Regions from separate parts of the Homo sapiens genome. Here region 1 is linked to region 2. The links come from fine-mapping of genetic effects on gene expression. Tissue or cell type: lung. Region 2 holds a variant in brackets; the other region holds the start of a gene. All regions are shown on one strand. Distances are from middle to middle. Region 1 holds the start of ROS1 (ROS proto-oncogene 1, receptor tyrosine kinase). Region 2 has its middle 21 kb from the start of ROS1.

Region 1 (5,390 bases), 21 kb after region 2:
ATACATATATAAAGGAATAAAACTAGACCCCTATCTCTCTCCATATACAAAATTCAAATCAAAATGGACTAAAGACTTAAATCTAAGACCTCAAACCATGAAACTACTACAAAAAACATTGGGGAAATCTCCAGGACATTGGTTGGGGTAAAAATTTCTTGAGCAATACCCAACAAGCACAGGCAACCAAAGCAAAAATGGACAAACGAGATCACATCAAGTTAAAAATCTTCTTTACAGCAAAGGATACAATTAACAAAGTTAAGAGAAAACCCACAGAATGGGAGAAAATATTTGCAAACTACCCATCAGACAAGGGATTAATAACCAGAATAAATAAAAAGCTCAAACAACTCTATAGAAAAAAAATCAAATAATCCAATCAAAGGATGGGCAAAAGATTTGAATAGACATTTCTCAAAAGACATACGAATGACAAACAGGCATATGAAAAGGTGTTTAACATCATTAATCATCAGAAAAATGCAAATCAAAACTACAATGGGATATCATCTTACCCAGTTAAAATGGCTTATGTCCAAAAGACAGGCTATAACAAATGCTGGTGGCAATGTGGAGAAAAGGAAACCCTTGTATATTTTTGATGAGAATGTAAATCAATACAACCACTATGGAGAACAGTTTGGAAGTTCCTCAAAAAACTAAAAATTGAGCTACCATATGATCTAGAATTCTACTGCTGGGTATATGCCTAAAAGAAAGAAAATCAGTATATCAAAGAAATATCTGCATGTGAATGTTTATTGCAGCACTGTTTACAATAGCTAAGATTTGGAAGCAACCTAAGTATGCATCAACAGATGAATGGGTAAAGAAAATGTGGTACATATACACAATGGAGAACTATTCAGCCATATTCAGTCACGTCCAACAACATGGATGGAACTGGAGATTATTACGTTAAGTGAATTGAGCTAGGCACAGAAAGGCAAGCATTGCATGTTTTCACTTATTTATGGGATCTAGAAATCAAAACAATTGAATTCATGGACAAAGAGAGTATAAGGATGGTTGCCAGAGGCTGGGAAGGGTGGTGGTGGGTGGGGTGGGGGATGGGAGATGGGGACAGTTAATGGGTACAAAAAATGTAGAAAGAATAAATAAGACCTACTATTTGATAGCACAACAGGGTGACTACAGTCAATAATAACTGTACATATTAAAATGACTTAGAACATACTTGGATTGTTTGCAACTCAGTGGATAAATGCTTGAGGGGATGGACACCCCATTCTTCATGATGTGCTCATTTCACATGGCATGTCTGTTTCAAAACATCTCCTGTACCCCATAAATACATACACCTACTATGTACCCACAAAAATTAAAAAACAAACAAACAAAAATCCAATCAAAAGACGTTCAGCTCAAAACAAAACCTCATGCATGTGTTACTCATAGGGAGAACCTTATATCATTAAGAAAAGGTTAAGTTACATTTAGTATAATTTATTTAAGAAAACAAGGAGGTTGGCCTGTTGTACCGCGGTGGCTCACGCCTGTAATCCTAGCACTTTTGGAGGCCGAGGTGGGCGGATCACGAGGTCAAGAGATCGAGACCACTCTGGGCAACATGGTGAAACCCCATCTCTACTAAAAATACAAAAATTAGCTGGGCATGGTGGCGGGCGTCTGTAGTCTCAGCTACTCGGGAGGCTGAGGCAGGAGAATCGCTTGAACCTGGGAGGCGGAGGTTGCAGTGAGCTGGGATCATGCCACTGCACTGTAGCCTGGGCGACAGACAGAAATTCAGTCTCAAAGAAAGAGAGAGAGAGAGAGAGAGGAAGGAAGGCAGGCAGGAAGGAAGCTTGTACAATGTTTCCTTCTCAAAGCAGACACTTGAACATATCTTAGGTTTCTGGTAACTAGTTTCAGCTGTCTCGATAGACCTGATAAGTCAGTATTTTAGTTAATATGTAGTAAAGTTCTGAGAGTACTCTAACCAACTTCCTTGTTTTTAACTCTCTCCCAGGGTATTTGTCTATTAATTTCAGCTTTGTTTGCTCTTAAATTTAAAAATATGTATTTGGCTTCTGAGTTCTGTTTTCTCTCTCAGTTGCATTGCTTGATTTGGGTGCCTCTATTTTTCCAATAATTCTTTATTATAATAGTGCTACTGTTTGCTAAAGCATACGTGGTCAAAACCCAATTCCCTGCAGAGCTGAAAAGAGCTCAGAGAAGTAAGGTGGTGGACGACCCACTGAAATGTTCCAGTTTCAGACTGCATGTGTCACACCCTTGCTGAAATACAATTCGTTTTCTTTAATTTCCATGTGAAGTGCACTTCTAAGAACTAACCTTTAGTCACTGGGTGACTTTATGGGAGTAAAAGGAAGCTGTTATGAAATAGCTCTTATGGAACTGTTACAAGCTTTCAAGCATTCAAAGGTCTAAATGAAAAAGGCTAAGTATTATTTCAAAAGGCAAGTATATCCTAATATAGCAAAACAAACAAAGCAAAATCCATCAGCTACTCCTCCAATTGAAGTGATGAAGCCCAAATAATTCATATAGCAAAATGGAGAAAATTAGACCGGCCATCTAAAAATCTGCCATTGGTGAAGTGATGAAGAACATTTACTGTCTTATTCCGAAGCTTGTCAATTTTGCAACTCTTGGCTGCCTATGGATTTCTGTGGTGCAGTGTACAGTTTTAAATAGCTGCCTAAAGTCGTGTGTAACTAATCTGGTAAGTCTCACAATCTAATATTTGTCTTTGCAGGAACTAGAACATGTAGCATTCAGCTTGTTATAACTGATAGAATTGTTTTCTCTTTATGAGGAGTTTTCTTATGAGAAGTGGTGGCAACAAGGCAAGATAGATTATTTTTTCTTAAATAAGTTAGGAGCCCTTATAATTGCAGAAGATAAAGCAGGCTATTTTATTTCTTTAGGGTATGTGGTCATATATTTTTTGGGCTAGAGGACTGGGTAAAGGAGGTTTAAATGGAATCAATTTTGCCAATTTTGCACACTTAAAAACTTTCTATTTAAACTTATTTATTACAAAGTCATTAGTAGTTGTCTTGAAACCTGAAATCGGTTTGGCCACAGGATAATGCCTGCTAATTCCAGCTGTGTAGGGAGCTGGATGAAAAAGGAAGCAGATACAGTTGCCATGTAAAATAATATTTTAAAGCAATAATTATTTGTACATTTCTTTATTTCTGTTTGTGCATTTATTATTTTAGTTAGTGAGTTTTTTATATGGAAATTCATGCTTTCATTCTCATTTCTGGGTGTCATCCCTTCTCTAACTATTGTACCATCTCTTTTCAGTTGTAATTTAGTTGTGCTTAAAACAGTCACTGAATTAACTTTAAAAACCAAGTACTCTATAGACAGAGAAAATGCACTCTTCCTGTCTAAAGACAAATAAAATATCATGATAGTTTGCATATGACCCTATCTATAGCCATACTTTTAAACATAATGCAAGTACTAAATATAGTATTCATTATATTATTCTAAAGTATTGGAGATAGAATTATGTGGCAGATTAAAAAGAAACTTGCACTTATACACTTTTGATTTAAACTGTAGTTTAAAACACTACTTAGGTTTACCATGGTTAGTAGCATTTTTTTAAAAGTTTAGTATTTTATATAAATCTTTGCCGAAGACTTCATTGCCTTTAATATAGAATTGCATGCTTTAGTTTTTTATATTTGTAACCCAAACTTAAAAATGGAAGAATGGAACTACTAAATGTTTCAACTACTGAATGGAAAACTAAATGTTCTAAAAAAGATTTTAACTTTTTTCTAATTATAATAAGAGTATACATTTTAAATAAAATATTTATAACATAGAGAACTACAGAAGAATAAAAAACTTCTAATTCTAGCCCTAGTAATCTTTTGATTGAATTTTCTTTTAGTATTTTTCCTCATATATATATATGTATACATATATATCTATAATTTACACCCAGCTATGCAACCAGCTTTTTCATTACATTGTATTGTGAGTTTTCCCCTAGACCCTGAGATTTTTTTAGAAACAGAATCTTTATTATCTTTAGAGTATTCCATTATATGAATGTACCACCATAATTTATTTGTTAATTTCCCTGCTACTGAAACTGATTTTAGTTGTTTCCAATATTGCAGTCTCCATTTTATTTTACTGTCGTTTTATTTATTCTTATCTTTTTGTGTGGGCTCCTTGCTTCCAGGGTTTGGCAGTAGGAATAGACAGTTTGTTCCTTTGTTGAGTTGCCTTCCGTTCACCACCTACAGAGAATGGCACAGCTGATGTGTGGCAACAGCAAGAGAGACACGGTCTGCCAATTTGACCAGTGAAAGTACTACATGTTCCCACATAGGGCCTGGAGGGACAAAAGTGAAGTGAATGTACAATTGAATGTAACCATGGTTCACAGGAGAGGATATACAAAGTGCTCAAGTTTATTATATTTTCTGCATCATTTTTAAAAACATGGACATTTACTCTGAAGGTCATCTATAATTTTATTGGGTGATTCTTGATATTGAGAAATGTTTTCTTAAAAAAAAAAAGTCACCACAAGAATGTCTTGTCCAAAAATAAAATGTTAGAATTGTGGGCCAAATTGCACGAAGCAGAGTTCTATGCTTGAGCATTGGTATTTTACATTACTTTTATCTTACGTTAACAGAGATCTGCATGTACTAGTTGAAAGTATTAACTGAAAAGTTTTTTTGAATTCTAGAAGCCATGTGCTGCAGAAAACAACAAACAATTAATGCTCTTCAGAACTCTAGTATTGTGAGATCCTTTATGATAAAGAAAAAAGAATTCACGGTTGAATCATTTGTGGAAGTGTATTTTGCTATGCCCTCTTTTTGTAGATTCACAGGGCACAATAACATGTTAAAAGCTTTGTTTAATCATAATTTTCCCATCTTTAGCAACAAAACCCTTTTTTAATGTTTCCATAAGTTATTGGGGGAACAGGTGCTATTTGGTTACATGAGTAAATTCTTTAGTGGTGATCTGTGAGATTTTGGTGCACCCATCAGCCATGTATACACTACACCATATTTGTAGTCTTTTATCCCTCACCCTGCTCCCACTCTTTCCCCTAAGTCCCCAAAGCCCATTGTATCATTTTTATGCCTTTGCATTCTCATAGTTTTGCTCCCACTTATCAGTGAGAACATACGATGTTTGGTTTTCCATTCCTGAATTACATCACAAACCCCCTTTTTTTTTTGAATTAACAAATCACAACAACTGAGGAACTAATATTGAGAAGGGCTCAGGAGTATCAATTCCATTCAATAAATTTCATTCAATATCAATTTATTGAATGGATTCCATTCAATAAATTTTCCTAGGTATCTATGTATATTCAGCTCTGTGGTGGATGCAATTCGGAATACAAA
Region 2 (5,390 bases):
ATCCAAATGTTTGTCAACTGCTAAGTGGGTGAAGAAAATGTGGCATATTCATATAATAGAGTATTATTCAGAAATAAAATGGAATGAAGTACTGACACACGCTACAACCTGGATAAACCCTGAAGACATTGTGCTAAGTAAAGAAGCCAGACACAAAAGACCACATATTGTATGATTCATTTATATGAAATGTCCAGAGTTGGCAGTAAAGACAAAGTAGATTAGTGGTTACCAGGGACTGTCGGGAGGGGGAATGAGGAGCGGCTGTTAATGGGTCGGGGTTTCTTTTTTTTTGGGTGATGAAAATGCTCTGGAATTCGATAGCAGTGCTGGTTGCACAACTGTAAATATACTAAAAGCCTCTGAATAGCACGCTTTAAATAGGTGAACTGTATGGTATATGAATTATATCACAATAAAGCTGTTTAAAAATAAAGTAAATAGATCCTTGGTGTCATGTTTTCATTGCAGCAGACTGTCAGCAAAAGGGATGATGAGTAGAAAGGCAGTATATGAAAAACTAGTTTATTCCTCAACATTTCCATGATTAATTACTTTCAGGTCTATAGACTATAGAATCAATTAACTTGGAAATGATTTAAGAGAGTAAGGAAGCCATGAATTTCAGATGCAATGTTTGGCTATATAGAGATTTGGAGATGTAGTGTCAGACACATCTGGGTTTTACCTCTGGCTCAATCAATCAAGCGTCAGTTTCCTCGTCTGTAAAACAGATTTCATAATTGTGCTCACTGAATTGAGCATTAAGGATTAAAGGAGTGGGGATCTTGAGCGATCTGGTTGGCCTTCCAAGGCAGGATTACTGTGACTGTTGTGCGTGCACACTCTCCTTTTCCTATTATTGCTGTTGTTTCCTGTTTTTGCCAGGTACAGACCAAGTGCTGAGTCTGGGTGAAGGAGAGAAAGCTTCTCCTCTCAGGCGATGCTGGCTCTTTGTCCCTTGGAGAGTGGCTCTGGTCTGGCTATGTTGATAAATTCCACAGAGCTGCTATTCATCAGAAATTCAAATCAGCAGATTGTTACTGGGAGAGCTTTCTACCCTAATCTCCCTGGAAAGGCAGGGTTTCAGGCGTCCTGGATCGCAAGCAGCTCCTGAGGTGGGATGAGGGACAGGATGTGATGTTTTCAAGAACCTTCTTTCTGAAGGACTTGCTCCTTTCTTCTTAGACCACTTGTTCTTCCTTCATCTTTGTTTTCTTCCAGTTAGCCGTTAGGCATCATTTTATTTCATGATGCACAGCACCTCTCTTGTCCTATATTTAAAGCAGGCATTCTCTAGTGCTCCAAAGCATGGGCATTTAGCAAAGGCTTTAAGTTTGAGCAGCAAGCCATTTCAGTTGCTTTCTTTTAGATCATTCCTATTTTTCTCTGTATCATCAAATCATCTCTTCTTATTTAAATTTTTTATTTTTATTTTTTTGATACATGGTCTCCCTCTGTCACCCAGACTGGAGTCCAGTGGTGCGATCATGGCTCACTGCAGTCTCAACCTCTTGGACTCAAACGTTCCTCCCACCTAAGCTTCCCAAGTAGCTAGGACTACAAGCATGCACCCACCATGACAGACTAGTTTTTTAAATATTCTGTTCAGATGAGGTTTTGCCATGTTGGCCAGGCTGGCTTTGAACTACTGGGCTCAAGTGATCCTGCTGCCTTAGCCTTCCAAAGTGCTGAGATTACAGGCGTGAGCCACCATGCCTGGAAAATCATCTCTTCTTTACCTTCCTTGGGCTTCATAAGCCAGGATGCCAGTGCCTCTAAGGTGCTGGTTATCACAGTACTGGCACATAGGATGTGCCTGTTGAATGCTTGCTTGAGGTGGGCAAACTGTTTAATTTATAATAATCAGCCTTTGGGGTGAAGACAGAATTCTGTGCAGTATTTTTCAAGTCCCACATCACTGCCTTTTTCTGTTCTTCTGGATGTTTTCCTCCCTCAGTATTCCCCTCATCCAGAGTCTCTGAGGGGGTGACTTTGTGGGAGGAATAAAATGGAATGTTTTTAAAGTGACTTAGCATGGCTTAACTATGATACCTCAAAATTGGCATCACCGTACCACTCATTTTTTGTTGCACTTGAACCAAAAGAGTTATACGAAGTTACAAATGTTAGGGGAGTTTGGGCCAAGCATTTCTGGAGAGGAGTTTCTGTGTGGGAGAACAGTCATAGTCTTAAATGGCTGAATCAATTTCAGGAGGAGAGAAGCAAGAAGGGCTTCTGGCCACTACTGTCTAGCCTAACGCTCAGGGAGGGAAGGGGGTGGCAGTGCAAAATTTGGAAATATTCCTTGTTCCTCCTTCCACAGGTCAGAAGGAAGTCATGCAGAACTCACCTGCAAGGGATCCAGAGAGCTCGACAGGCGGCTGAATTTAATTTCACAGAAGAATGAAGAAAACTCAGGAGAATAGAAAATTAACCTAAGATCAAAGGAGGTGAGGGAAATTGCCAAACTTGTATTTCTAGTAGGGACCATTTTTGGAATTTGTTGTTGTGTTTAACTTTGAGAAATATCTATGAAACCCAATGAAATACATTTAAAAAGTTAGCAGAACTTAAGGAGTTTCTTTTAAAAGTAAAAATTTACATTAGTAGCTGATTATACACACACACACACACACACACACACCACCTAAAACCACAATGTATGGTTTATTAATGTATTTATTTGATAAATATGTATTGAATGGTTATTGAATTGGATCATATAAAATTAACTTTTTTTTTTTTTTTTGAGACAGGGTCTCTCACTCTGCCACCCAGGCTGGAGTACAGTGGGATGATCACAGCTCACTGTAGCCTTGATTTCCTGGGCTCAAGTAATCCTCCTGTTTCAGCCTCCCAAGTAGCTATGACCACAGGCATGCACCACCATGCCTTGCTAATGTTTTCTGTTTTTTCTAGAGACAGGGTCTTGCTATGTTGCCCAAGCTGGTCTCGAATTCCT[C/G]AGCTTAAGTTATCCACCTGCCTCTGCCTCCAAAAGTGCTGGGATTACAGGCATGAGCCATTGCACACAGCCTAAAACTGACTTTTTTTAAGGTCAAGATGTTGGTCTATCGGCCATTTCACATGGTTGAACCTATCAGCCAAAATTGTTGTTCAAGGAATCAGCAGTGAAACCTTCTCTAATCTCAGGGGATTTACAATCTAGGGTGAAATAAATCCTTTAAATAAATAATCAAAAAGTTATATAAGACAATAAAATAATTATAAGTGTGGCAACTGTAGGCAAAAAGAGCATGCAAGGAGCCCTGAGACCATACAATGAAGAAACAACTTAGTCTTTGGGGTTGGAAAAGGTGCCCCTGGGGAAATGATGTGAGGGATGGGTGGGATGAATCTGCTGGGGAGGGGGGTGGGCTTTCCAGGCAGTGGAGATTTATGGGAAAGGCTCACGGGGGGAGGGAAGGACCAGAAGGAGTCTGGCTGGTTGGAGGGTGATGTAAGAGAAGAAGGTCAGAGAGGGAGAGGGTGACCAGGTGGGCTGAGGAAGTCCTTGTACACCACATCAACTTTAGGGATTTCAGAGATTGTTCTAAGGAAAATGGAAAGGCAGCAAAATTTTTTTTTTTTTTTTGAGGCAGAGTCTCTCTCTGTCGCCCAGGCTGGAGTGCAGTGGTGCCGTCTCGGCTCACTGCAAGCTCTGCCTCCCGGGTTCAGGCCGTTCTCCTGCCTCAACTCAGCCTCCCGAGTAGCTGGGACTACAGGCGCCCGCCACCACGCCCGGCTAATTTTTTGTATTTTTAGTAGAGACGGGGTTTCACCATGTTAGCCAGGATGGTCTCGATCTCCTGACCTCGTGATCTGCCTGCCTCAGCCTCCCAAAGTGCTGGGATTACATGCGTTAGCCACGAAAATGTTTTAAGAAGGGGAAGAACTGATCTTTACACAGTGTGTTGGTATAGAATTAGATCTGGTAGACTGCCATGTTGAAATTTCCAAGTGTTGCAGTAAGATCTGAAGAGAATGAAGTGTCCAGAGTTTGAGTTGGTGTCCAGCAACTCAAGTCTTGGAAGAGGAAAACAATGTGTACCTGTCCTTCTAGATAAGAGTATTCACTCCTGATGAGGCCAGTGCTTGTCCTGGGGACCACAGGCCAGCTATCTTAACACAGCTCTCACAACTGGGTCTCTTGAGACCCATTTCCAGGCTCTCTTGTTCCCCTGGGAATCCCTGACTATTCAGTTCCCAGAGGAAGAGACAGAAGTAGAGGTTTAAGAGGCAGGTGGGGTTAGGATGAGAACATAGTTTTCTTGTAACTCGAAGTAAGTGGCTTGGGGTATACCAGCTATTGAGAAATCCTCTTGAAATCAATTGAGCAAGTTTTGGAGTGAATATTACAGTAAGAATTCAGGGCAGATATAAAAGCAACTAGAAAAGCAGAAAAATGCCTACACTAGCTGTGTCATCTGCACTACATATGCTATGGGAACATATAGCTGTCTTGGCTGTGGACAGTAAACTGTAGTTGAGCAAGACCGTTTAATATCTGGGACAAACTTTACTGGTAAATAAAGGCCATGTGCTCCTGAGGTTTAATTGGGACACATCCTGCATTTGTTAGTGAAATAAGCTCCCAGAAAAATAGATAGACTTTTTTGGGGATATTTTTGACATTAAAACTTTACTCATTTGATAGTTATATTCATCATCCATGAACATTTTTGGAACATCCAGAACATCCAAGGTGTTAGGCTTCATCTTTTGTTGTTAACATTTTATATTCTTCTTGCTTCTGTTATGGTATATCAATTGAGAAGTTCTTGACTAAGAATTAAAATAACAAACTGAAAATATCTTAACACAAACCTGAGCTCACTTAAAGAAGTCTGGAAGTTGGTGGATCCAGTGTTAATTTTTAATTGATTTTTATATTAAAAAATGTTATAGAGTAAAATCCTAAGTTTGCATGAATTTAAAACCAAAACTGGAGATACGAAGAAAATTTGAGCTCCTGCAAAGCTCAAAGCTCAAAACTCAAAGCCCGCATCCAGAGATGGGCATCACCTCCACTTAACTCTTAATGGTCTTCTACTGTCAGGGTTCTCCCAGGGAGAAGATTCAAAGACACAGTGCTCAATAATCCTGTCAACACAGTGGTCTTCATGATTAGAAAGGACAACTGAAGTCTAGTTTTTCACACATATTAAAGGGATTTAGTTAGGGTTAACTTTTCAGAATTCTAGTGATCAGGGAAGAATAGCCTGATTAAACTGATTGACCTAATGATATGTTTTTAGGTAAATAAGAAAGCCCCAATTCGAGCTCATAGGGACAATTTTAGTTCCCCAAAAACCAAAGCTTAGCATACTAACCAAGACCTACTCAGTCTTAGATCTCTGTTTTAGTAACTCCTTTGAAATATAGGCAGT

The links. PIP is the estimated chance that this variant, and not a neighbour inherited with it, causes the effect.
Region 1: ROS1 starts here. The variant in region 2 is fine-mapped to the expression of ROS1 in lung (TOPMed, PIP above 0.99).

Annotation. Positions count from the first base shown.
Region 1 is chr6:117,422,854-117,428,243 of GRCh38, reverse strand. It overlaps ROS1 (ROS proto-oncogene 1, receptor tyrosine kinase), which reads left to right and starts at 2,302. Exons shown (of 44, transcript NM_001378902.1): 1 at 2,302-2,710. The coding sequence starts at 2,588.
Region 2 is chr6:117,443,748-117,449,137 of GRCh38, reverse strand. No RefSeq gene overlaps it. Among named protein-coding and RNA genes, the nearest start is that of ROS1, 21 kb to the right of the region's middle. The variant C/G (reference allele first, on the strand shown) is at 2,966.